Regions from separate parts of the Homo sapiens genome. Here region 2 is linked to region 1. A link means that fine-mapping ties the variant in region 1 to the expression of a gene that starts in the linked region. Tissue or cell type: NK cells. Region 1 holds a variant in brackets; the other region holds the start of a gene. All regions are shown on one strand. Distances are from middle to middle.

Region 1 (8,176 bases):
GGTTATGTGAGAAAAACCTGGCATTGGCTGACCTAGTCCCGGGAGCTGTATTTCTATTCCTGGAATAAAGAGATAAAGTTCTTCTTCTTGCCACCAGAGGGAGCATTGGTGAGCCTTGGTGCATGTGTGTGCATGTGTGTGCGCGTGCCTGTGTGTGTGTGTGTGTGTGTGTGTGTGTGTGTGTGAAGAGAGAGAGAGAAACAGAGAGAGAAAGGGAAAGAACGTGTGGGTGACTTGTTTGTGACTGACTATATGCCTGAGATCGCTTGGGTGTGAAATTTTCAAAGTGGCTGATTGTATGTGAATGTCCCTCCTCCCTCCACCCACATGATAAACAATCAAAAGTGTTTCCAGTCCCAGCCTCTTATTCATCACTCCCTGAACCTTCCCTGCACGCTTGTTCACAGCTAGGTGATCTGGGTGGATTCCAGGGCTAAAGCTTGGAGAGCAACAAATACAGTTCATGTGAGAGAAGCGTCTTGCAATGCAGTTACTGTAACTCCAACATAGTTGCTTTGGACCTGTCTATCTTTCTTAAAGTGAGGTCTCCCTGTAATCCCAGAATTCCCTTGAGGATCTAAGTGTTCTATGGTTCTTAACTTTTGGAAGGGGGTTCAAGCTTCCTTTGAAAACTTTTGCAATGCAAAAGCATTCACACACATCATTTTGAAAAGCCAAAAGCTATTCCACACCAATTCCAGCGGGCTCAGAGACCCTCTGGAACCCATTCAAGGACACACATGGGAAGGAGGCCTGTAGTGTGTGCACAAGTGTCTCTAAAGACTTCAAGATGCTTCATCCCAGGAAGAGACACCAGCTGCAGTAGCCCCTGCTCCTCTCTGGGCGTGGCCAACAGTGACACTGAGAAGTGGAGAGAGCTTGGAGAGAAGGCGGCTGACCCTAGAGGGAGGTGTGGAGCCAGGAGTGAGTGGATGGTCCCTGATGCCTCAGGAGACCGAGGTATGAAGAAAATTCCCGTTTCCACTATTGAAGGATATTGAGGTTCCCAAGGTGCCTTGCGGAGTCCAGGGAGCCAAGAATCTCACAGCCTGTAACAAAATGATATTCACTCCCAACTCCAGGTGCAGCCACCTCAGAATAATTCAGGGGGTTCAGCCTGGAGTGAAGTATACTCTTGCTATACCCTCCCTGGTATCCTCTCCACCTACCTTGATAAATGTGAATTTTTTGTGATGCAGTCTAAAATCCAGACAGAAGGGAAGCCTGCTTTTCCTGCCTTGTTGGCCACATGAATATATAAAAACTCCCCAAACATTTATAATACATGCAATAACGTGTTTTAATGTCATACTGAGAAGGTAGTGATTAATTCTCTCAGAGGGGACTCAAGAGAAGATTTGCAGGGGGCATAAGCCCTGAGCCAGGTTTTGTAGGATGTATAGGAGTTCATCAGGCAACCAAGGACAAAGGGCACTACAGACCCAAGGAACAGCCTGGCCACGGCACAGTGGCCTAAGAAAGCATGGTGTGTGGGGAACTCTAGCAAGTTTACTCTCACTATGGAAGAGACGAAGGTTAAGAATAAGCCCCAAGGGGCATGGATGTGTTTTGTTTTGTTTTGTTTTGTTTTGTTTTGTTTTGTTTTGTTTTGTTCTTTGGAGACAGAGTCTCACTCTGTCATCCAGGCTGGAGTGCAGTGGTGCAATCTTGGCTCACTGCAACCTCCCCCACCCCAGTTCAAGCGATTCTCCTGCCTCAGCCTCCCGAGTAGCTGGGGCTACAGGTGCCCACCATGCCTGGCTAATTTTTGTATTTTTAGTAGAGATGGGGTTTCACCATGTTGGCCAGGCTGGTCTCGAACTCCCGACCTCAGGTGATTCACCCTCCTCAGCCTCCCAAAGTGCTGGGATTACAGGTGTGAGCCACCACACCCAACCATTGATGTGTTTTAAAGGGAGGCAGAGGAAGAAACTCAGAAGAGGAGAGAAAAAGAGACAGGGCTAGAATAAGATTAGTATGATGTCACAGAAGTCAAGGGGAGACAGAGTCCTGAAGGGACTATTAATATAGTTAATTAATGTGATATTATTAATTTTATTAATAATTAATATAACACTAAAGTCCTCAAAACCCTCTCTGGAAAAAAGCATAGGCCACAGATCCTACCGTGGTTTGTGTTTCTTTTTCCTAAGCGTGTCCTCAACCTTGGCAAAATAAACTTCTAAATCGACTGAGATCTGTCTCAGACACTTGTTGGTTTACAAAACATACAATGCAAACAACAGAACAAAACATCAAAAAACTATGATTAATATTTCCAAAGACAGAGAGATAATATTGCACCCATGAAATGGGAAGAGAATCCATACAAAAAAGGAAAAAATAACATTCAGAAAACAAAAGGAACTCTTTCTCATTCTTTTTTTTTTTTTTTTTTTTTTTTGAGACGGAGTCTGGCTCTGTCGCCCAGGCTGGAGTGCAGTGGTGCGATCTCGGCTCACTGCAAGCTCCACCTCCCGGGTTCACGCCATTCTCCTGCCTCAGCCTCCCGAGTAGCTGGGACTACAGGCGCCCACCACCACGCCCGGCTGATTTTTTGTATTTTTAGTAGAGACGGGGTTTCACCGTGTTAGCCAGGATGGTCTCCATCTCCTGACCTCGTGATCCACCCGCCTCGGCCTCCCAAAGTGCTGGGATTACAGGCGTGAGCCAACGCGCCCGGCAAGAACTCTTAATAATTAGGAATATGACAGCAACAATAACATGTTAATTGGAAGGGCTAGAAAATAAAGTTGAAGAAAGATTCCAGAGGCACAAAAAAAGGATGGAAAATAGATCAAGAAAGATAAGAAAATTCAAGATCATCCAGGAAGTCCAATATTTTACTACTTGGAACTCCAGAAAAACAAAACAAAGAGCTGGAAATGGAGATAGTTACCAAAGAAATTGAACGCACAACGTTCCAGGGGCTAGGGCTTACCAAGTCCCAGCTGTATTATTCACAAAGACCTAAGGCACGGGAGACAAAGAGAAGACACTTGAAACTTCCAAAGAGAAAAATGGGTCACATACAAAAGATTCAAAGTTGGATAGTTTTAGGCTTCTCAAGAGCAACACAGGAAACTAGAATACAATAGAAAAATCTCTTTAAAAAATTTTTTTTTTCTTTTTTTTGAGACAATCTCCCTCTGTCACCCAGGCTGGAGTGCACTGGAACAATCTCGGCTCACTGCAACCTCCGCCTCCCGAGTTCAAGCAATTCTCCTGCCTCAGCTTCCTGAGTAGGAAGGATTACAAGCACGCACCACCACGCCCAGCTAATTTTTGTATTTTTAGTAGAGATGGGGTTTTGCCACACTGGCCAGGCTGGTCTCAAACTCCTGACCTCAAGTGATATGCCCATCTTGGCCTCCCAAAGTGCTGGGATTACAGGCATAAGCCACTGCACCTGGCCCAAAAATTCTAAGAGAAAATAATTTTCAACTAGAATTCTATGTATGCCCAGGTAAATTATCAATTAACTGTCAAGGTAGAAGACAGATATTTTCTGGCTGGGTGTGGTGGCTCATGCTTATGGTCCCAGCACTTTGAGAGGCTGAGGCAGGCGGATCACTTGAGCTCAGGAGTTCAAGACCAGCCTGGCCAACATGGTGAAACTCCCGTCTCTACTAAAAATACAAAAATTAGCCAGGCGTGGTGACACATGCCTGTAATCTCAGCTACTCTGGAGGCTGAAGCAGAAGAATCACTTGAACCAGGAGGCAGAGCTTGTAGTGAGCCGAGATGGTGCCACTGCACTCCAGCCTGGGCAACAGGGTGAGACTCAGTCTCAAAAAAAAGAAAAAAAAAAGAAGCAGAAGAAAGATATTTTCATATATGCAAAGTTTCTAAATTCTCTTGCCTCTTTTCTCAGGAAGGTACTAGAGATTGGGTTTCACCAAAACGAAGGAGCAAATCACCAAAAGGCAGGCATGGGGTTCAGGGAATTTGGGATCCTGTAGGTAAGAGGCAAAGGAAATTCCCAGGACAGTGGAGAGGGAAGCTCTAGGATCACTAACAGCTGTATATGAGGCCCAGTAAGTAACTAGCACAGATTAGAGCGGGAGACTGGGGGCAGGCGAGGGGTATGGAAGAAAAAAAAAAGAAAAGAGAGAAGAGAGAAGAGTGCTCATAACTTCCTCACAGGTTTGGATCTACTGAGCCCTCTAGGCCAAGAGGAAAAAGAGGCTAATTTAGTCATGAAACATATATAGACAACTAAGCAAATAAAAACACGGCAAAACTTAACTTCAGAGAAAACCAAAAATCATATAAGTAGGGAAGGTTAATCATAATATACTACATGGGATGTAAGAAAATTTATCTAATCAAAGTTATGTAACTATTTTTAACTTAACCAAAACTTGAGATGAAACTAAATGTATTGAAAGGATGGGGGATGGGTTTGCATGGGGGCTGGGGTGAGGTTTGCACTGTTCTTGCCTTCCGTCACAAGAAGTCAGTTTAGATAGTATGTATTTATTTTTTTAATTAATTTATTTATT[T/A]ATTTATTTATTTATTTATTTATTTATTTATTTTTAAGATGGAGTATCTCGCTCTGTCGCCCAGGCTGGAGTGCAGTGGCGAGATCCCGGCTCACTGCAACCTCTGCCTCCCAGGTTCAAGTGATTCTCCTGCCTCAGCCTCCTGAGTAGCTGGGACTGCAGGGGCCCGCCACCACACCCAGCTAATTTTTGTATTTTCAGGAGAGACGGGGTTTTGCCATGTTGGCCAGGCTGGTCTCAAACTCCTGCCCTCAGGTGATCCCGCCTCGGCATCCCAAAGCACTGGGATTACAGGCATGAGCCACCACACCTGGGCTAGATAGTATTTAAACTGAAAAATCTACAAAGAGCACTATCAGGCTGTTGTTGCAAATACACATTGGAATATCAGAAAAATTAAGTGGCTGCCTTTGGGGAGAGTGGGGCACAGGAAACTGCTGTTTTCATTATAAGAAATGTGGCACTTTTTCATCTTTCTAAACTGTGGCCATTCATTGTCTTCATAAAAATTAAAATCAGCTAATAAAAAGAAGCACGTGGGCATACATGAGGAAGTGAGAGAGTGAGCTTCTTTTTCAAGGAGGTTGGATTTTAAAATATGTAAAGATAAATAGAACAAATATCTGAGGTGGACACGGGGTCAAAGGAGTAGTTGTTAGGATGACAAAGAAGTGAGCATGTTTATAGCAAAGAGAAGGTGCCTGTGGAGAAAGAGCTAACAGGAACAGAGGATTGTTGTTGGGAGGCATTAGTGCCTCCCAACAACATCTTCTTTAAAAATAGAAAAATCCATCCTAAAATTTATGTGGAACCTCAAAGGACCCTAAAACCCAAAACAATTGTGAAAAAGAACAGCAAAGCTGGAGGTCTCACAGTTTCTGATTTCAAAACTTAGCTACAAAGCTACAGTCTTCAAAACAGTGTGGTACTGGCATAAAGACAGACATATCAATCAATGGAATAGAATAGAGAGTCCAGAAACAAACCCTCGCATATATGGTCAAATGATTTTAGACAAGGGTGCCACAACCCTTCAGTGGGAAAAAGACAGTCATTTCAACAAATGGTGCTGGGGAAAGTGGATATCCACATGATAAAGAATGAAGTTGGACCCTTACGTAACACCATATGCAAAAATTAACTCACAATGGACCAAAGACCCAAATATAAGAGCTAAAAACTACAAAACACTTAGAAGAAAATGTAGGGCAAAACTTTACGACATTGAATTTGGCAATGACTTCCTGGATATGACACCAAAGGCAGAGGCATCAAAAGCAAAAATAGACAAATTGGACTTCATAAAAATTGAAAACTTTTATGCATTAAAACACACTACCAACAGAGTGAAAAGGCAACCTGCTGAATGGGACAGCATACTTGCAAATCATGTATCTGATAAGATATTAATATCCAGAACATATAGAGAACTACAACTCAACAACAAAACAACCAACCAGATTAAAAAATGGTCAAAGGACTTGAACAGGTATTTTTCCAGAGAAAATATATGAATAGTCAATAAGCACATGAAAAGATGCTCAACTTCACTAATTGATAGGGGAAATGCAAACCAAAACCACATTCCACCTCACACTCATTAGGATGGCTCCCATCAAATACACAGGAAATGACAAGTGTTGGTGAGGATATAGAGAGATTGGCACACTAGTGCACTGTTGTTGGGAATAGAAATACAGCCACTGTGAAAAACACTATGGCAGTTCCTCAAATATTAAAAATAGAATTACCATATGACCCAGCAATTCCACTCCTGAGTGTAAGAACTGAAAGCAGGATCTTGAAGAGATATTTGTACACCTGTGTTCATAGCATCATTATTCACAATAGCCAAAAGGTAGAAGCAACACAAGTGTCCATCAACAAAAGAATGGAGGCTGGGCACGGTGGCTCACACCTGTAATCCCAGCACTTGGGGAGGCCAAAGTGGAAGGATCACTTCAGCCCAGGAGTTTGAGACCAACCTGGGCATCATAGTGAGGTCCCACCTCTACAAGAAATTAAAAAAAAAAAATTAGCTAGGCATGGTGGCTTCTGCCTCAGCCTCCCAAGTAGCTGGGACTACTATAGTAGGGAAGCTGAGGCAGGAGGATTGTTTGAGCCTGAGAGGTTGAGGCTGTAGTGAGCCATGATTGTGCCACTGCACTCCGGCTTAAGTGACAGAGTGAGACCTTGTCTAAAACAACAAATGAATGGATAAACAAAATGTGATATATACATACAATGGAATACCTGTACACCTGGGCAACAGAAAGAGACCCCATCTAAAACCAATAAGCTTGTGAATAAACAAAATGTGATATATACATACAATGGAATATTATTCAGCTTTAAAAAGGAAAGAAATTCTCACACATGATATAACACAGGTGAACCTTGAGAACATTAAGCTAAGTGAAATAAATCAGTAACAAAAAGGCAAATGCAGGCCTGGTGTGGTGGCTCATGCCTGTAATCCCAGCACTTTGGGAGGCTGAGGCCAGCAAATCACTTGAGGCCAGGAGTTTGAGACCAGCCTGACCAAAATGGTGAAACCCCGTCTCTACTAAAAATACAAAAAAAAAAAAAAAAAAAAAAAAAAAACTAGCCAGGCGTGATAGTGCATGCCTGTAATTTCAGCTACCCAGGAGGCTGGGGCAGGAGAATCGCTTGAACCCAGGAGGCAGAGGTTGCAGTGAGCCAACATCGCATCCCTGCACTCCAGCCTGGGTAACCAGGTGAGATTCAGTCTCAAAAAAAAAAAAAAAAAAATAGAGACAAATGCTTTATGATCTACTTATAGGAGATTCCTAGAGTGGTCAAATTCGTAAGGCAGAAAGTAGAATAGGGGCTGGGGGAGGGGGCGTGGGGAGTTATTGTTTAATGGGTACAGAGTTTCAGCTTTGCAAGATGAAAAGAGTTCTGTGGATGGACAGTGGTGATGGCTGCACAACAATGTGAATGTACTTAACACCACGAAACTCTACACTTAAACATGGATGGTTAATATGGTAAATTCTGTTAAGCATACTTGCCATAATAAAGAAAAATTGAAAGAGAAAGGAAAAAAGAAAAGAGCACCAGTGGCCAGATTGGCTTCAACAGGAAAAGGAACATGATCCCTGAGGCAGGAGGGGAGAGAGGTGTGGATAGAGAGAAGCTGGGCATTTGTATGGAATCAGGTTAAGCGCATCCAATAGTTGGCTTTCTCAGGGAAGGAAAAGGTAAGGGTGTTTGTTAAAATGCAGGAAAAGTGGGGGCCAGGTGGGGTGGGGTGAGGATGAGGAAGCACGCTCACCCATGCCTGTCTTAGGGCTCCTCTGAGTCAGGGATGCACATAAAATATATGTCTGGAAACCAAAAACAACTTAAAAACCATTCAGATCTTAACTAAAGTCCCTTTCCCCTTCTGAAAAAAAAAAAAAGTCAAAGAGGCAATTACATTCATGATGCCCAGCCTTCTCTCTGCCTCTGGATCTCACACACCAGAGCAGCTTTCCCAGCATCTTCGTCTCATTCCTGCTCCCTGCACCTGGAAGCCTCTCTCCCAGCTGTGCCCCTGCAAACCCTGCTTCCCCAGGCCCAGAGCCCATGGGAGGGAAGGAATGGGCTGAGGCAGGCAAGGCCTAGTTCCACAGAGACACTCAGGGCCAGGGAAGGATTTGATGGCT
Region 2 (8,176 bases), 30 kb after region 1:
GCCACATGGAGCACAGCCGTGCCCCCACAAGCCAGAGGGAACAACGAAGCTGGCAAGAAAGAACAGCAGTTAGAGCAGGGGCAACAATGGAGAAAGGAGTATCTATTATGAGCTTGGGCATTTTACACCAGCACTTCCCAGCCTTTTCCATAAACATGGAAAACATTTTTTGCATACGTACTGTGGTAAAGGAATCTGCTTCCTCCCAGGCCCCCAAGACCTGAGGGATCAATGTGGATCAATCCTCAGCACAGGGGGTCTGCCTTATACCCCACTTCTCAGCTAAACCCTAACTACAATGTGGGAGGGCATTAACAGGACCATCAAAGTGGGGTATGGCACTAGATGGGGCCCCAGGCTCACTAGGACTCTCTACTGTTGAAGACATCTGCAGGCGGGTAAGGTCGCCTAGGAGGTGGTAGTGGGGAGAGAAGGATCTAGGTTTCCACTGGAAAAATTAAGGCTAGAAGGAAGGCTAAATCCTTTCTCAGCCCTACTCCTACTTCTCACAAGAAGGGAGTGGCATCTGGGGAAGAGGGCACAGGGCTGAGAGCCAGGGCTTCCAGATTCTATTCCTGGCCCCTCCCCTGGGCCTTCCTGACCACAAATCCGCCCCCCACTCCCTGCCCTACTGCTCATAGAGGATTAAGACATCACAAATAACAACTCATGACCCCATCCTGCTGCACCCACCCACCCTGCCCCAGTGCCCCATGCCCTCCTCCAGCTTCTCCTTCCCTGGCCCAGCCAGGCCTGACTGGCACTCAGGGGCAGGTAGACAGCTAGGCCCCCACCCCTTGGCATCAGTGGCCCAGCCTCTGGCGCAGTTGCCTATCCTTCAGCTCCCTTGCTCTCCTAACAGTGAGCCCTAGGGCTCAAAACCCACTGTCAAGAATGGGGACCAGGTGTGGTGGCTTACACCTGTAATCTTAGCACTTTGGGAGGCCAAGGTGGGCAGATTGCTTGAGCTCAGGAGTTCGAAACCAGCATGGGCAACGTGGGGAAACCCCAAATCTACAAAAAAAAAAATTAGCCAGGCATGGTGGCGTGTGCCTGTAGTCCCAGCTACCTGGAGGCTGAGGTGGGAGGATCGCTTGAGCCCAAGAGGTTGAAGCTGTTGAGGCTGCAGTGAGCCATGACTATGCTACTGCACCAGTCTGGGCGACAGGTAGAGATCCTGTCTCAAAAATATATATATAGGCTGGGTGCAGTGGCTCACACCTGTAATCCCAGCACTTGGGGAGGCCGAGGCAGGCAGATCACCTGAGGTCAGGAGTTCAAGACCAGCCTGGCCAACATGGCGAAACCCCATCTCTACTAAAAATACAAAAATTAGCAGGGTGTGGTGGCAGGCACCTGTAATCCCAGCTGTTCTGGAAGCTGAAGCAGGAGATTTGCTTGAGCCCAGGAGGTAGAGGTTGCAATGAGCCAAGATCACACGACTGTACTCCAGCCTGGGTGACACAGCGAGACTCTGTCTCAAACAACAACAACAACAACAACAAACCATACACACACACACACACACACACACACACACACACACACACACATATGTAGAGGAGGAGCTGGATCCCTCAGGCCCAGTCCAGCCAAGGCGGCCCACTGAGGCCCCACCTTCCACTGAGGCCCCACCTTGGGAGCCGGACTCCTTGGCTCTATTTGCAACCCTTGATGGTGCCTTCGCCATCTGGGAGATACTGTCTTTCTACATCAATTCAATGCTCAAACTTTATGACAAGCATTCAACCTAGAGGGAAAGAGGGTCGGCCTCCACGATCCGCGTCCCCACCCTCGGTTGTCCTCAGCTGCCAGAAAGCCGAAGTCCAGGAGCCCTGCTCTGCGTGGAAAGCAGAGGCCCACAGCCTGGGGCAATGTGCAGGCCAACCTCCCTCTACTTCCTTCCACCTGAGTCAGGGCTGAACCAACTTGAAAGAAGGCTCATCTCACCCAGGTATCCCCCTCCCAGGGCTTCCATCTTCCTCTCACACACCTGGATCACATTCTGGACCGGCCAACCTGGTGCCTCAGGGGAAAGTCCGGATCTGCTGGGTTGGCCACTGGCCCAAGCCTCCCATGCCCTCAGTTGGCCCCAGGAACCTCCCCCCTAAGATGTCCGGCTCTGAAGTAGAATGCTAGTCCTCATTCTCTCTGTAGGGGAAAGAGAAGGGAGGGAAGGAGAGAAGAGGGCCCAGTCCCCCGGGGGCTTACCTGCCTTGACCTCAGCACTGAGGTGGTGGGTAGCATGAAGGAAAGATGGTGCGCCCGGTGGTTTAGGACACGAGGGTCCCGGTCCCGAGGCTCTGCCGGGCCCGCACTGTCTGGATGGCCTGCTGGTTCTTGAACTTGACCAGGCCTAGGGTGATCTGGGCGTTCCAGCCGGGATCTTCCAGGGGGCAGCGGAAGTCGATCTCGCCGCCCCCTTCGGTCACCAGCGTGAAGTAGATGTGGCGCCCGGTGCTCTCCACGCACTCCACGGCCTTGATGCGGGCGAAGCTGAGCTCCTTGGGCCGGCCGCCCGTGCCCTTGGCCTCGAAGAGCTGCAGCCCGCGTTCGGTGAGGACGCAGCGCTTCCGCTTCCACAGCTGCAGCAGCCCGCCGCTGCGCTTCTCCAGCACGCCCTCCTTGAGCACGGTAGCCGTCGCCGCCGCCGTCATGGGCGCCCCGAGGTTCGCGGAAAGCTCCAGGCTGCGGCGGGCGCGGCGCCCCTCTCGGCCCCGCAGCGCAGGATTCTGGCGCCCCGGGCTGGCAGGCCGTGCGCGCTGCCCACCTGCGCCCTGACTGCTCCGCGCACCCACACCGCGGCCCTCAGCACCCGGCTGCCGGTGAGGTGGTGTCGGTGCCCCCAGCGCGCTCCGCGCCCACCGCCCCGCTTCAGCCGGCACCCGCTCCTCCGCTCTACCCCAGCTGGCCCAGCCCGACCCGCCTCTGCCAGATGCCTCCGCGCCTCCCTAGGCCGTGAGCCCCACCGCCCGCCCGTTCTCTTGCTCCCCTGGGCTCTGTCTGCGCGCTGGGCGGCAGCTCGCGGGATGTGCCCTTACATGTTCCGCCGCTCGCCTCCTGCGCCGCCCGCCCGCAGCGCATTCCTACCCTGGCCGGCCCTCCCCTCCGCGCCGCGCACCAGCTCCGGCAGGGCCCCGGGGGCGGGGCCGCAGCGGGGGCTCAGTCACTCACTGGAGGCGCAGGGCGCGGGGCGGGGAGGGCCGGGACTGAGAGGGGGCTGCTTACTCAACAGCCCAAGCCTTCTGGCTGCCGTCTGCCGCTTCTCGGAACCGCAGCTCCCCCAGGCCTTGAATGAAGGGGGAGATGGCGGGGAAGGGAGGGGGAAGGCGCATCTCCTCGATTGGAGAGCGCGCTGCTAGCAAGGGGGTGGGCTTGCTTGGCGAACGCGCAGTGGCACCAGTTGCATGTTAGGCGTCAGACAGCTGCTGGTTACTTGGCACGCCATGGGGCCCCCAGCCTCTGCATCAAGCCCATGTTGGGTTCCTCCTCCATCGCCCGATTTCTCTGTGCAGCACCCAAGAGAGGCTGTCCATCGCTGCCTCTGCTTGGACAGTTCACCTGCTCCTACTCCTACCCCCATGCATTGCGCGGGGAGGCCTGTAGAGAGTAGCCAGTGCCAACAAAGGAGAGCTGAGGCTTGAGGTCATTCATGCCCTCCTCGTAGTGGGGGAGGAGGGACCCCCTCCGTGACCTGGGGATGCCACTGTCTGCAGTCCTCTCCACCGCACACTTGCAGGCGCCGACGCTGGACCGATGGCACAGCCAGTCCCAGGTGTAAGCGCAGCTCCAACCTTGCTCCTTCCGCTCCGCAGATTCTGTCCTCCCTCGGCCTTCCCCAAGAATGGACTTCTCCCGCATACAGAGCTGGAGGGGAACGCAGAGGGAGAGGTCTCTTTCTGTTCTGGCTAGAATATTGTGTAAACACAAGAGCTTTGCAGAGTTGAGTTCAAACCTCTTCTCCCTTGTTGGCTGTGTCCTGCCCACCTGGGGCAACTTTACTGACCTCCGTCAATTTCCTCATCTGTCGAATAGGAGGATTAATTTATTCTCATCTCATGGGGTTGTCCTGATGAATAAGTTGGATAACATTTGTGAAAGACCCAAGACAGGACCTGACAACTCTTGAGTCTCAAGAAATGTTCTTCCTCCCCTCTCCCCACTCTTATTCCCTTTAGAGAATGATGGGGGCCCTGAGATTAAGCCAGGCACTGGAAGAGGGCTCTCTTAGGTCCTCATTCTGTCCCCATCTTGATCAGTTCCTCCAGGCCCACAGTTTCTTAAAGGTCTATTCATCAACATGTTAATAATAGATTCTTACGGGAGTAATGATATATAATAATGACAGTAATAAGACCTCTTTGTACTTACACCCTGTGTTGCCATCCTCCTGCCCAAAGAGCAGAGCCTAACAGATACAGGGAAGGTCCTGTTGTGGGGATAGGAGTGCGCTCCTCTGCAGTCCCAAAGTTAGGAGATGAGAGAAGGGAACTGTCAGTGTCTCATCCATAACTCTTTATACACACACACACACACACACACACACACGTGTGACGACAACTAACTCCTAACTCCCAGAATGCCCCTCCAGGAGAGGGAATAGACAGTGGCATTAAAGAAAAGACAAAGACAGGTGTCTCCTGAGGCCCAGAGAGCAGCAGAAGAGGGAGCTCGAGGTGGCCACGGCCCTACCTGAGGGACCCACAAGGTCTCAGCCTGCCTGCCAGCCCTGCCCTCCCATGGCTCCTCCCCACCACTCCACAGGGGTCTCCTGGGTGCACCAACCTGGCACAGTCCTGCCATGATCCAAAGTTCTCTCTCTGAGGAAACAGGGCCCTAGATCAGGCTCTACCCCTAACTCATTTTTTTGTTTTGTTTTGTTTTTGTTTTTGAGACGGAGTTTTGCCCTCGTTGCCCAGGCTGGAGTGCAACGGTGCGATCTCGGCTCACTGCAACCTCTGCTTCCCAGGTTCAAGCGATTCTCCTGCCTCAGCCTCCCAAGTAGCTGGGATTACAGGCATCTGCCACCACACCTGGCTAATTTTTTGTATTTTTAGTAGAGTCGGGGTTTCTCCATGTTGGTCAGGCTGGTCTCAAACTCCCCGCCTCAGGTGATCCGCCTGCCTTGGCCTCCCAAAGTGCTGGGATTACATGCGTGGGCCACTGCTGTTTTATCTCTACCAGTTCCTCTTCTCCCCACACTGGGTCTGGGACTCATTCATGCTCTTTCCAGTTCCAGGTGGATTCACAGTTGTATGGGCTTCGTACAGAGCCCTCTCACATGTTGTAGATGCTCATGATAGACAGATATTATTATCACTGTGGGCGTTTTACCGATGAGAAAAATGAGACCCAGAGAGGTCAGATAATGTAAATGGCGTCACATGGCTTTGAAAATGGCAAAGTCCAGATGAGAATGCATGGTGGCTAACAGGGCCCAGGATCGTTTGATGATACATACCCATACTGCCCATACATGAACATCTGAGTCCACATAGTTCCTTTAAAAATGATCCAGTCACCCATACTTTTCTCTTCAGCTTACTGAGTTGCGAGGTAGCGGGCTTTTGGACACAGGAGAAGGGAACATTGGATAGCAAGAGTGAGCAGATAAAGATGGGGGTGGGGGGCCATTGGAGGAAATTTAGCAGGACATACTCTACTGCTGGAAGGGTCTTCATCAGCTAAGCATCCAGTTCCTAACACGACAACGTCTTCCTGGAGGCCTGAATGGGTCCTTGGAACCTGGAATCCTGTCCTCCAATCTCAAGACCTCTGGGACTAGGGGAGATGATTCATTCCAAATCTTTCCCTAGAACTGGCATCTTGCCTGGTAGCCACATCTGGGAGAGGCTCAGGCCCAGGCTGGATTATTTGGGCCATCAGAAGGATCAAGAAGAACTCAAAAGCCAGGGGAGCAGCGTGCAGAGAGGGCTGGTGCTGCTCCTCCCTTCCTGCTGAGGTATCCCTACCCATCCCCTGGAACAGGAGCTCTGACTTAAACTTCTTGGTTAAGTCACTGGGCTGGAGCAGTGCTGGGCCCTAGAGATACTTACCCAATTCTTTTTTTTTTTTTTTTTTTTTTGAGATGGAGTCTCACTTTGTCACCCAGGCTGGAGTGCAATGGCACAATCTCGGCTCCCTGCAACCCCCGCCTCCTGGGCTCAAGTGATTCTCCTGCCTAAGCCTCCCGAGTAACTGGGATTACAGGCGCCTGCCACCATGCCTGGCTAATTTTTGTATTTTTAGTAGAGATGGAGTTTCATCATGTTGGCCAGGCTGGTCTCGAACTCCTGAGCTCATGATCTGCCCACCTCAGCCTCCCAAAGTCCTGGGACTACAGGCGTGAGCCACCGCGCCCCATCACTTACTCAATTATCATTGACTTGTTAACTCCACATCTGGCTGATGGACAAAATGTCCCATGGTAGCAGCCCAGAGCTGGCTTCTCCCTCTGCCCACCCCAAAGAGAAAGCAGATCTGCACCGTCAGTAAATCCAAGTCCGGCTGGAACAGGCTAGACTACAAAATGGCCCCAGGGAAGAATGTGCTGGAAATGGTTCTAGCTAGGGCTGAGCCACACCACCTCCACACCTGTGTGAGAAGGAGGAAGTCCAAGTGGAGAGGAGGGGTCCCTCTGGGTGGCTACCCAGGACAAGGCGGAAAGAAAGATGGGAATAAGGCGGGTTAGAGGTAAGAATGAGACCCAGAGAGATGCAAAAAGTAACATAGCTTTTGTTTTCTATATTTACTTAATTCTTTTTTTTTTTTTTTTAGATTGAGTTTTGCTCTTGTTGCTCAGGCTGGAGTGCAATGGCACGACCTCGGCTCACTGCAACCTCCACCTCCCGGGTTCAAGCGATTCTCCTGCCTCAGCCTCCCTAGTAGCTGGGATTACAGGCGCCTGCCATCATGCCCAGCTAATTTTTTGTGTTTTTAGTAGAGACGGGGTTTCACTATTTTGGCCAGCCTAGTCTCGAACTCCTGCCCTCAGGCGATCCACCAGCCTCAGCCTCCCAAAGAGCAGGGATTACAGGCATGAGCCACTGCGCCTGGCTGTCTACTTAATCTTATATAAATTCTTCATAAATTGTTAGACTCAATCTAAAGAAAAGTGTTGAAGACAATTTATTAACAAAACAAGACGTACATTAACACTGCAAAAACTTTAAAACTAAGGATGATATCACTCCTTTGCTCAAAAGCCACCAGAGTCTTCTCATCTCATTCTGAGTAAAGCCAAAGTCATTGATGCTACCTGCAAGGCCCTCTAAGACCTGCTCTTCACTTTCTGATCTTACCTCCTGTACTTTCCTCTATCCCTGGCTCCAGCCACAGTCCTCACCATCCCTTGAACTTGGCAACCATCCTTCCTCAGGGCCTTTGCACCTGCTGTCCTCACTGTCTGGAATCCTCTCTCCCAGATCACCAAATGGTTCATTTTTTCACCACACTAAGCTGTGTTCACGTATTACCTTCTCAATGGGGTCTTCTCCCAACACTGTGTTTAAAGCCACAACCCCCTTCCATAGATGTACATACACACACTGTATCCCGTCCCTGCTCAATTTTTCTCTATGGCACATATTAGCATCCACAATTGTATTTTTCTTACTTATTGTCTATCTCCTTTACTTGTGGGCTCTATGCCAGCGGGGAGTTTGTTTTTTGTTTGTTTGTTTTTTTGAGGCAGAGTCTCGCTCTGTCGCCCAGGCTGGAGTGCAGTGGCGCGATCTCAGCTCACTGCAAGCTCTGCCTCCTGGGTTCACGCCATTCTCCTGCCTCAGCCTCCTGAGTAGCTGGGACTACAGGCGCCCGCCACCATGCCCGGCTAACTTTTTGTATTTTTAGTACAGACGGGGTTTCACTGTGTTAGCCAGGATGGTTCCAATCTCCTGACCTCGTGATCCGCCTGCCTCGGCCTCCCAAAGTGCTGGGATTACAGGCGTCAGCCACCGCGTCCAGCCTATCTGTTTTTTTTACCCCTGTGGCTCCAGCACCTAGAACATTGCCTAATACACTGTAGGAACTGAATGAATAATTATCGAATGAGAAAATGAAATGACAATGTACCTGACAAAAACTGGGAGGTGGAAAAGGATAATGCAGAGGAGGGGAAACAATCAATGCAATCTAGAGTTAATGAACTAATGAAAAGAATGTAACTGCATTATTT

Alleles and levels. Positions count from the first base shown, and alleles are read on the strand shown. Sizes are in standard deviations (SD) of each study's normalised expression.
With allele A in place of T in region 1, the expression in NK cells of the gene that starts at base 3,059 in region 2 is higher (large effect, 2.0 SD a copy in Schmiedel 2018).

Evidence for each region. PIP is the estimated chance that this variant, and not a neighbour inherited with it, causes the effect. A credible set is the group of variants that fine-mapping cannot tell apart.
Region 2: it holds the start of PHLDA3, and the variant in region 1 is the best candidate, but not a certain one, in a credible set for the expression of PHLDA3 in NK cells (Schmiedel 2018, PIP 0.86).

The regions. Positions count from the first base shown.
Region 1 is chr1:201,435,767-201,443,942 of GRCh38, forward strand. No RefSeq gene overlaps it. Among named protein-coding and RNA genes, the nearest start is that of TNNI1, 18 kb to the left of the region's middle. The variant T/A (reference allele first, on the strand shown) is at 4,506.
Region 2 is chr1:201,466,130-201,474,305 of GRCh38, forward strand. PHLDA3 (pleckstrin homology like domain family A member 3) reads right to left here and starts at 3,059. Exons shown (of 2, transcript NM_012396.5): 1 at 2,212-3,059; 2 at 1-49. The coding sequence starts at 2,657. The coding sequence ends at 2,274. RefSeq lists enhancers at 2,239-2,298, 2,369-2,508, 2,730-3,444, 2,959-3,078 and silencers at 2,579-2,888, 3,099-3,328.